Homo sapiens: one gene and its partners. The protein of the gene in region 2 purifies or fractionates together with the protein of the main gene of each other region. This does not show direct contact. Each region holds a gene or a part of one and is shown on either strand. Other genes may lie near its edges.

What was found.
Region 1: the proteins of ESR2 (region 2) and UBE3A purify together in Homo sapiens (affinity purification with western blotting; 4 studies listed by BioGRID). This does not show direct contact.
Region 3: the proteins of ESR2 (region 2) and PTCD3 purify together in Homo sapiens (affinity purification with mass spectrometry; 3 studies listed by BioGRID and IntAct, with this or other methods). This does not show direct contact.

Annotation. Positions count from the first base shown.
Region 1 is NC_000015.10:25,365,941-25,369,596, reverse strand, and holds part of UBE3A (ubiquitin-protein ligase E3A), read left to right. Parts: intron 1-3,656. UniProt on the Homo sapiens protein: E3 ubiquitin-protein ligase which accepts ubiquitin from an E2 ubiquitin-conjugating enzyme in the form of a thioester and transfers it to its substrates.
Region 2 is NC_000014.9:64,284,357-64,288,012, reverse strand, and holds part of ESR2 (estrogen receptor beta), read left to right. Parts: intron 1-3,656.
Region 3 is NC_000002.12:86,112,655-86,116,310, reverse strand, and holds part of PTCD3 (small ribosomal subunit protein mS39 precursor), read right to left. Parts: intron 1-3,656. UniProt on the Homo sapiens protein: Mitochondrial RNA-binding protein that has a role in mitochondrial translation.

The DNA of each region.
Region 1 (3,656 bases), on a different chromosome or scaffold from region 2:
AGGTAGTTAATAATACTATAGTATACTAGTAAAGTTGTCTGACACAGACAACTAGGAAATGTGATTTTTACTTTAAAATGTATTTTAGTTTTAGAATGTCTAAATTTTAGTTTTAGAATTGTCTAAATTCGAGAATTCATAAAGCTGTAGCCCGGTGGAAAAAGTTATTTGACATCTCAGAAATTAAAAATTGCAGAGATTTTGTGTGTTTTTTTTTTTTTTGTTACTGGTTTGTTTTTTTTTTTTAATGTCAGATATGTTTATAGTGTTGGAGAAAGATTCTGCATTATTTAAGCAACTCAGGTGGTTTTCTAGCAGAGACAAAAGGGGGCTTTAACTGCCTGAAGTCATTATTATTGCTTGCTTTCTGGTACCCTTTTTATTTCACTTACATAGTTTTGAGACACATGAATAATTAATACACTTAATGACTGATCATAAGGCAGCCAGCACCTTACTTTACATAGTTTAGCAGAATGATAGGGTATTTTATAAGAATGTGAGTGATGTTTTATGAAAGGTATGTTGAGGTCTGTCTATGACTATCCATTGTTGGAGCAGAACTGCAAATGCCAAAGCTACATACTTTATGTTTGGCTTCTTGAGGTGAGATCCCTTCAGCTGTCTTCATCAAAAGCTATGTCTAGCCTTTAAAAGGCAATGAAATTACACTGTAAGAATCATTCCAGGGTTCAAAAAATTGTCTACCTTCCTTATCTGTCTTTCGCTCAGAAGTCTACTCAGTCTTATTTTCCTCAGTCCCCCATTTTTTTCTCTAGTAAAGCAAGACTAAAAACAAAAGTTTAAGTACTTGGTATATACTTTATTCTATATTTTAAATTCTATTCTAGAATTTTAAGGAAACAACTGCTTTTAAAGCCTTAGGTGTTAGTGTAAAATTAACTGTGAGCTCTTTAATTATGGTAACTTGTTTTTAGCAAGTTCTGCTTAATTATATCAAAATTAGATAATATAGTGTGGCCTATCATAAATCAGGATTCACTAGATAGTATATGTACTTGAATATTGCCAGCCCACAAAAGCAGTTCACTTCAGAAATCATGTGTGTTAGGCAGTTTAATAAACTGTGAAAATAGAAAGAGATGATGCTTACAGAGAAGCTTCCTTAGGGGCTCTGAATGCTCACACTAAGCAGATTTTACTCTTAACTTTCTTTCTCCCTTGCTTTTTCTTCCTTTTCTTTTTTTTAAAAAAATAACAGAATGTGAAAAGACTAGAAAAACCAGCATCGAAATAGGTCTTATAAGTAAAATTGATAACCTGTGTAATTTTTTGAAGTAAGTATTCACAGCAGGTGATGATTATGATAAAGCCACATATTTTAGTAACACATAGTAGAAGTTCTATAATAGAAAGTGGTTTAAGATTATTCTCTCATATGAAAGCTCAAAAGTGATGAATTTTTCAAGATCTTATTTCCCAAGGATCTCTGCTTTTTAAGCCTCATTCTTATATATCACAGTGAACAAACTAGTGGCCACTTTTTTATGACTTGCTAATTTTGGAATTGTATAGCAGGGTTGGGTGGAAAAGAAGAAATGAGAAACTTTGTGGTAAGCTTAATATTGATAAATAAAATTATGGGATCCTAGGCTTTAAGAGCTAAAAGAAACCTTAGAGTTATCCACTCCTTAGTTTAGAAATCAAGCCCAGAAAATAGTGACTTCATATATGAGACTCTTGTATGTTTTCTGTTGAGGAGTGGTAACTTGAATTAATAATTGTGGATTTTTTTAAAAAAGAAAAATATATTCATTGCTTTTATATATTGTGAAATTCAAACCAGACTAGCAGCTTTTTTCCTGAGGTTTTTAGAGAAATTGTCTTTGATGACAAGAGAAGAATTCATGTTGATAGTATTTTCACTAATCTCTGATTGTAGGAAACACTATCATTTTATTACTGCTAAGACAGAAAAATACCAGCAATTCATTGTAAGATGCTATCATTTGTATGGTGTAATCTGATTTCAGAGATAATGTGAAAAAAGTGAATTTTAGAATCAATAGAATATAAGTTGTCTCTTCACAAATACCTTAGAACTGCTTAAGAACACCCCCACCCTACCCGTTTAACTTACTGCCATAGTTCCCCTAGGACTTATTTTCAGTATTTTTTCGTTATTGTTCCTTAGAAAACAGTACAGTGATAAACATGAGCTTAGACTTCACCTTTCATTTGAATGACATTCCTAATGTGATGAGGTTTTTACAAATATGTAAAACCATATTTACAAATTTACATTTTTAATATAAATATGTAATTTAATTTAATATGTAAATTAATTTAATTTAAATATGTAAATATTTACATATTTACAAATATGCAAATATTTACATATTTACAAATATGTAAATATTTACATATTTACAAATATGTAAATATTTACATATTTACAAATATGTAAATATACCCATTTGTGTGTTCTTTTACAAGTAGATAATTTCTCATTTTTCTTAGATGAAGCACTTCCAATGATAGTATGTATTAAGATTTTTTAAATTACTTCTTAAAGGAGAAGATAGAGGTTATAAGTTTATGGAAGAATATAGTATTGCCATCATGAGGTCCCTCAAACTGCCTTCACATCTGAATGGGAAAATTGTTTAAAAAAAATAAATAAATAAATAAATAAAATCCAGGGCCCTAACCTCTAGAGGTTTAGATTAGAAGCTGTATTGTAGAGCCTATGAATCTGAACTTCTGGTAATACTCCACAAATATTTTGATAAAGCCAGACTCCAATATTTGGGAAGATGGCCTTTGGTTCAGCTCAGGTGGGGGTGTGTGTGCATGTGTGTTTATGTGTGTATGTGTGCATATATAGAGAGAAAGAGAAAGGCCATTTTGATATACAAGTATGTTTATGTGTTTTGGAAACTCAGATTTTTAAGAGGATCATGGGGACAGCAAGCTTGGAATAGAGGATGATGATGATGTGAAACTTGGTTCCAATTAGTCAGGGAGTTCTAGCATTTCACATAAATATCTAAAAACCAAAAGGAATGGCTGAGATGTGGAATTGAATAGGGAAGTTCAAAAATAGGAATTAGCACAGATAAAGGTGATTGGCACAGATAAAAAGCCCCACTACCAGGAGGTTCTGCAAAATCCCCTCTAAAAGTCACTGGCCCTTTTTATCTGGTTTCTAATAGCCTAGTCTAACCCAGCTTCCAGCATTTTCAGCTCCCAGCTTCCAGCATTGGTGAACACTCTTACTAGTGAAACATGAACGTAATTCTTTTATTTATTCATTGACTCACAGAGCTTTAAAAATGAGATTATTCTGTGCTGCACTAGGTATGTTTAATTTTGTCTTACACATACACTATATTGTGGTTAACATGTAATTTCCATTGTTCTTTCTTGTGATTTATTCTAATTGAAATCAAAAATGAAACCAAGAAATATGCTTGGTTTATGCCCTCAAAGTAATTTCTCAGAAACTGAATGAGAGAATGAAGCCTATATATACATAGATCCTCAGCATTATATAATAATTTAAGACAATGAAACATCAAACTTAGTATTACATGTGAGGAAAATGAAATCTAAAAGAGATTCCAGCCTACATAAATTAATGGCAGAATTGGAAATAGAAGTCAGGATTCCAGGTCTCATGGACGAACGTGATT
Region 2 (3,656 bases):
ATAAATGAATAATTCTTAGAATCAGGATGTCTGGGTACTGGTTCTTTGGTTGGCCAGGTGAAATTCCATGCCAGGCCCAACAATTAAACTCTTTAGAGACAATTTTTTCCTGTTGTACCAGAACATTGTACTGAGGCCATGTTTGAACATTCAATCGATGTGTTGGGAAAACTCTGCCCTACAATGTTAAAGAAATTAAATCTTTTGGGGAGTCTTTCCTTTGACCAGTTTATATCTCTGTTTTAGAGGAGGGCTTCTCAACCAGAATGGGTTTGTTGACTTATTTTTACAGACCTCTGGTAGAAAGGAGGTCTTTTTTTGCTACCTGTTCTCCTGTCTCAGAGAACTATTACAATGGTGTAAGTTCATCATTTCTTCCCCTTATTATGGCTCTGCTTAGGAAGAAAAACTCTTTGCATTGGCTACCAAGTACCTAACTATTCAAGATGCCACTGACAAAGAGTTAATCTGTGAATCATGTGAATCTGATATATCTGAAATATATCCAAACAAAAAGCACCTAGCCTTTTAATGACTCTCCAGAAGTCAGTTCTCTAACTTTAATTATCATCCTTCTGGGGATATGTGGAAATTCTACAGAAGTTGATTGGTGATATGTTGAGATGTGAGATCTGTATTTTCTAAGCAAAGTTGCCATGCACCTGATTGATTGGCTAGGTGTATCCTGGCATTTGTCATTTGTTGGTGGGGTCTGATAGTTGGTTTCACCACTGCTGGGTACCCAGAGTCATCACATCCATAGAGACAGAATGTAGGCTGGTGGTTGCCAGGGGCTGGGGGAAGGGAGGAGTGGGGAATTTGTTTAACAGAGAGTTTTAGTTTTGCAAGATGAAATGAGTTCTAGAGATTGGTTGCACAATAATGTGAATATCCTTAACACTACTGAACTTTATACTTAGAAATGGCTAAGATGGTAAGTTTTATGTTACATGTATTTTAACACAATTAAAAAAGAAAAAAAAAAAAACAACTTCAGGCCAGGCACGGTGACTCACACCTGTAATCCCAGCACTTTGGGAGGCTAAGGCGGGCAGATCACTTGAGGTCAGGAGTTCAAGACCAGCCTGGCCAACATGGTGAAACCCCATCTCTACTAAAAATACAAAAATTAGCCTGGCCTAATTGTGCATGCTTATAATCCCAGCTAATTGTGAGGCTGAGGCAGGGGAATCGCCTCAAACCCTGGAGGTGGAGGTTGCAATGAGCCGAGATCACACCACTGCACTCTCCAGCCTGGGTGACAGAGTGAGATTTCATTTCAAAACAAAAAACCACTTTAGAAACTGCTAGTTTTGGCAATAGTTATCACTATATGTTTTATCCTGCATATTTTCTGTTAAGAATAAGGAATTGTTTATGTTGATCAGGAATCTAAGTAATTAAAATACAAAATTCTGGCTGGTGGCTCTCGCTTGTAATCCCAGCACTTTGGGAGGCCAAGGCGGGTGGATCATTTGAGGTCGGAAGTTCAAGACCAGGCTGGTCAACATGGTGAAACCCCATCTCTACTAAAAGTACAAAAAATTAGCTGGGCATGGTGGTAGGCACCTGTAATCCCAGCTACTAGGGAGGCTGAGGCAGGAGAAGCACTTGAAGTCAAGAGGCGGAGGTTGCAGTGAGCCAAGATTGTACCACTGCACTCCAGCCTGGGTGACACAGCGAAACTCCATGTAAAAAAAAAATGAAATATAAAATTCCATACTCATTATTAATTACATATAGTATTAAAATAAAACCCAAACACCAAACCTTCCTTGATCCTATATCCTTCTCCAGCTACCATTCTCTCTCCTCTCCTTGGTCCAAATTTTTGATTTACAATGTTGGTTGGAAGTGGTACCACTTTGGTGTTAGTTCCTTATCATTTTACCTGGTCTGTCCTGCCTCTTCCTGGTACATTAGCTCCCTGAAGGCAGGGTGTATGTCCCAGAACTCCTTGAAGTCCCTTTTCTCAGCATACTACCATGCCTACTGCAGCACCCCCCATCTTTAATGTCCTTGACTTGGTGAAATATTACATTTTGAACACATTTCCTCACTTCCTTATGACAAATATTGATTGAGTTTCAGTGCAAGGTGAGTAAGAAATGGTACTTGCTTTCAAGGAGCTAAAAATCTGAATTTCCTTTTTTTTTTCTTTTTCTTTTTCTTTTTTTTTTTTTTTTGAGACAGAGTCTCACTCTGTCACCTGGGCTGGAGTGCAGTGGCACGATCTCAGCTTAATGCAGCCTCCGCCTCCCAGATTCAGTGATTCTCATGTCTTAGCCTCTCGAGTAGCTGGGACTACAGGCATGCACCACCACGCCTGGCTAACTTTTGTATTTTTAGTGAAGATGGTGTTTCACCATCTTGGCCAGGCTGGCCTCAAACTCTTGACCTCATGTGATCCACCCACCTCGGCCTCCCAAAGTGCTGAGATTACAGGCATTGACTTTACTTCTTACTCTCCTATGCACCTCTATCATTTTGAAGAAGGGTTCAAGGTAGTTCTGATAAGCAGGATTAGGTTTGTATGTAAGTGATTAAAGGGGTGCTATGAGCAAAAAAAGTGTGAAGGTATAACAAGCCAACCACCTCACAATGCAGTTTGCATGTTTCTTAATGGACATAGCAGGTTTTCTGTAAGAAAACAGCAGGAGATTCGTGTGGAATGATGGGTTGAGGCAACATAGTGGCATCCCTTGAATGCTCGAAGAATGTGACTTAGAGTTTGGTGGGAAGCAGAGAGCTGGGTTTTAAGAACATGAATCTGACAACTCTATGGATCTGGAGGAGAAGCTAACTGGGGACGAGGAGCAGTAAGAAGCCTGTTACAGATGCACTGATAAGAAGTAATGAGAGCTGGCCGGGCACAGTGGCTCACGCCTGTAATCCCAGCACTTTGGGAGGCCGAGGCGGGCAAATCACAAGGTCAGGATTTCAAGACGAGCCTGGCCAACATGGTGAAACGCCGTCTCTACTAAAAATACAAAAAGTTAGCTGGGCGTGGTGGCGGGCGCCTATAATCCCAGCTACTCGGGATGCTGAGGCAGAAGAATCGCTTGAACCTGGAAGGTGGAGGTTGCAGTGAGCCGAGATTGCGCCACTGCACTCCAGCCTGGGTGACAGTGCGAGACTCCGTCTCAAAAAAAAAAAAAAAAAGTAATGCGATAATGAGAGCTTACTTCAAGATGGCAGCAAAAGACAGTGGAAAAAAGGCATTGGGAAAAAAAGCCAATGTGCCTTGATGAGTAAAGTTAACTGAGTCAAGGGGAGAAGTCAAAGGTAACTATGATGGGCTTTTTCTATTAACACAAATAGGAAATGAGTGGTTTTGGGAAAGAAAGTGATGAATTACCCCTCAGATATTGTATTAATTGTCTATTACTGTGGCCGGGCATGGTAGCTCATGCCTGTAATCCCAGCACTTTGGGAGGCCGAAACAGGCAGATCACTTGAGGTCAGGAGTTCGAGACCAGCCTGGCCAACACGGTGAAACCCTGTCTCTACTAAAAATACAAAAATTAGTGTGGTGGTGTATGCCTGTAATCCCAGCTACTCAGGAGGCTGAGACATGATAATTGCTTGAACCTGGGAGGCAGAGATTGCAGTGAGCTGATATGGCGCCATTGCACTCCAGCCTAGGCAACAAGAGT
Region 3 (3,656 bases), on a different chromosome or scaffold from region 2:
TCTCACTTCTGCCTTACAAAGGGCTAGGATTATAGACGTGAGCCACTGTATCCAGCCCACAAGTCTTTCTAGCTAAATTTTTAAGAGGACCTTGTGAGTTTTGATAAACAAAAATTCCGTAAGTTGTAATTATGTATGTAACCTAAATGCGCAAACGTGTGTGGGCATATATACATGTATATATAGAGAAAAAAGACAAAAGACAAACACCTGCACTGTACTCTCAGCTCTACAAGACTTGCCTTTAATTATGCAAGGCAAGCAATGGCTTAAGCCTCCCTCCCCATGGCTGATTTTAATATTTAAGTTTGCTACCACTGGGGACTGTTTTAAACTCTAGGTAAGAATCATCTGAATTAACTAGTCCTAACAGCAGAATCCCAGAATAGGATTTCCTCCAAAGCAAGGTCACTATCCACCCACGCTCAACTTCACCAAGAGTCCCTCCTCCAAATGGAAGATATCACCGTGCCCTCTGAGGAATGAACAACAGAACCTTCTCCCACGTCCTGTTACCCATTAAAATTGCTCCCTAAACCTGAGCATAATCAACTCTCCAATACCACCAGGGGCCCCACTGAGAAATGCCCCAGAATTGCTTTCTTTATTCTCTTCTGTGTCTGAGTGCCTTACTTGGGCCTTTATTCCAAAGCAAAAACTTATCCTATATCCTTAATGCTGTTTTACTGACCTGGACTCCTCAGGGAGGGGGCACAGAAGCTTCCCTGCAGCTCTCAACGGAAAGCTGCTCATACCTGGAACCTGGAGGCAGTGTTTTATTTTGGACCTAGCTTTCTGCTACCCCTTTCAAAAACCCCTTTCCCTTGAGCCTCACCTTAGCAGCCCTGTTGTGAACTTCAGTTTTTATTTGAATTATACTAATGGAAAGCCAATGTTGAATTCTTAAGAGTGATATGATCCAGGGTCACTACAGCTGCTGAACTGAGAGCAGTGTGCAGGGAGGTGCAGTGGGAGACGACAGAGACTGCTGCAATTAATCCAGACTTGTAAGACGACAATAACCAAGGTGACTGGTAGTGATATCAGGCATCTAAAATTTTGATATTTTGCAGAAAAGAGTTAACAGACCTGAAACCATTATCCTTAGGAAGGTCTGCGTCCAAGGCTGGCCCTTGGCTGCCATCTGGGAACCTGGATATTGGAAGGGTTCTCACCATTCCTAGAACTGCTAAGAATGGTTCACTGTGCCTAACCTGTTTGTACAACGTGTTTTGTGCCAAACACCTGCTTCCCTTCTGGGAGTATGGAAACTTGGTATAATATATGCCAGCCAGTGGGTGGTCTACATGGCCAGCCTCCCCTAAAAACTCTGGGCACTGGGTCTCTAATGAGCTTTGGTAGACACTTTGCATGTGTTGTCACAAGTCACTGATGGAGGAATTAAGCATGTCCTGTGTTGAATCTTCTGGAGAGGTCTTTTGGAAGCTTGTGACTGATTTCTTTTGGTCTTTATCCAATGAGCCTTTTCTCTTTGCTGACTTTGCTTTGTATCTTCTTGCTGTCATAACTCTTAGCCTGGGAGTGGTCACGGAGACCTCACACACACGTATCTTTTGAAGGGATAAACAAAGGCTTTGCTAACAATTCCCAGGATTTTGGCCTGAGCAGCTATAAGAATGGAGTTGCCATTAATGAGATGGCAAAGAAATATGTGAGGAATGTTTGGAGGGAATGGGGTTTGGTTTTGGATATGCTAAGCTCTTTATCACACTCTCAAGTGGAAAGCTTTCCCATTCTCCACATAGCTCTCTTTTCTAAAATGTCTGCTTAGAATTCCTTTACCCCCATCCTGGCTAACACAGTGAAACTCCGTCTCTACTAAAAATACAAAAATTAGCCGGGCGTGGGGGTGGGGGCGCCTGTAGTCCCAGCTACTCAGGAGGCTGAGGCAGGAGAATGGCGTGAGCCCAGGAGGCAGAGCTTGCAGTGAGCTGAGATTGCGCCACTGCACTCCAGCCTGGGTGACAGAGGGAGACTCCGTCTCTTTAAAAAAAAAAAAAGAAAGAAAAAAAAGAATTCCTTTCTCAGTCTTGGCGATACAACCCCTTCTCAGTGCTACCTCAGTCTTCCCCTCTAGAACTACACAATATCTGTGTCTAATTCTATATCCAGCACAGTGCTTGATAAGCATCATAAGGGCACAAAATATTGTTGCTGAATGAATGGATAAACGAATAACTCTTGGATTTTAAGGGCCAGATAAGTCACAATTCTACACACAATTCTATAACTTCTTTGATTTGAAAGTGGCCCTGGGCCATTCTCATTGAAATGTTGAGAATATCTCGGAGGTCCATTTCTATGTTTACATTTCAGGTGCCTATTTATGGATAAGTGAGCTACTGAAAATCTCAATGCTTTGCAAGTAGGGAGATGTAGTAAAGTCCTTTTTCAGAAACTGGTAGAGTACACCAGTGCACATTAGACCCAACACTATCTTTAGTAGCTCCATCTTTATTTTATATTTAATTTTTTTGTGTGTGGCGGGGGGGACAGGGTCTCACTCTGTGGAGTACAGTGGTGCGATCCTGGCTCACCGCAACCTCCACCTCCACCTCCCAGGATCAAGTGAGCCTCACCTCAGCCTCCCAAGTAGCTGGGACTACAGGCGCATACTACCACGCTCAGCTAATTTTTGTGTTTTTTTGTAGAGACAGGGTTTCACCATGTTGCCCAGACTGATCTCAAAGTCCCGAGCTCACAGGATCCACCCGCCTTGACCTCCCAAACTGCTGGGATTACAGGCATGAGCCACTATGTCCAGCCTAGTAGTTCCATTTTTAGATGTAGTTTAATATCCACAATAGAAGAACAATTCTGCGTACTTGTAATAATCGACTTAAGGAGGATCAATATCCATACAGATACTGTGGCAGAAAAAAAGACTTAATTATTTTAGACTTTTCCCCACAGACGAAATTAAAAGTTTTTGGTTAATAAAAAATACAACCAAGCAGAAAGTTCCATTTCTGATGCATTTACCAAAGTTTCAGTGTATCTACCAGACTACAAACTCTACTCTTGAGTTGCCAACAGAGAAAATTTCATGTCAATGAAATCAACAATACAGTAGTAGCAGTAACAAAATACAATGTACCAAGAATTTCCTTTGTCCCAGACTCTATCCTAAATCTTACGTATACTTAATTCATTTGTTAATAATTCCACTGCAACCTTGAGGTTTGGTGCTATAATTAACCCCCAATTTATAAGTCAGGAAACAGAAGTATCAAGAGGTAAAGTAACTTCCCTAAGATCATAAAGCTAGTTGCTTGGCTATTAAAACAAACCAGTAGGCTCCAGGACCCAGATTATTAATCATTACATGATTGTCAGCATGACAGGTACATTATTTCTCCAAGTTGGTATACTACAGCCAAATCGTCCCCTAAGAACATACATTTCAACAAGCCCTTCCAGGGATTAAAGATCACTGGTATGGTAGAAAAACACTGCATTTCGAGATAAAAGGCGTGAAATTAAGCCTTTAATTAAGGTTTTAACATCCTAACCAGCCACTGGCCACTTTCAAAACCTTAGCTTCCTCCTTTGCCAAATAAAGGGATTTGATAATTTTATTTTAAATTTTTTTTTTTTTTTTTTTTTTTGAGACAGAGTCTCACTAACTCACCCAG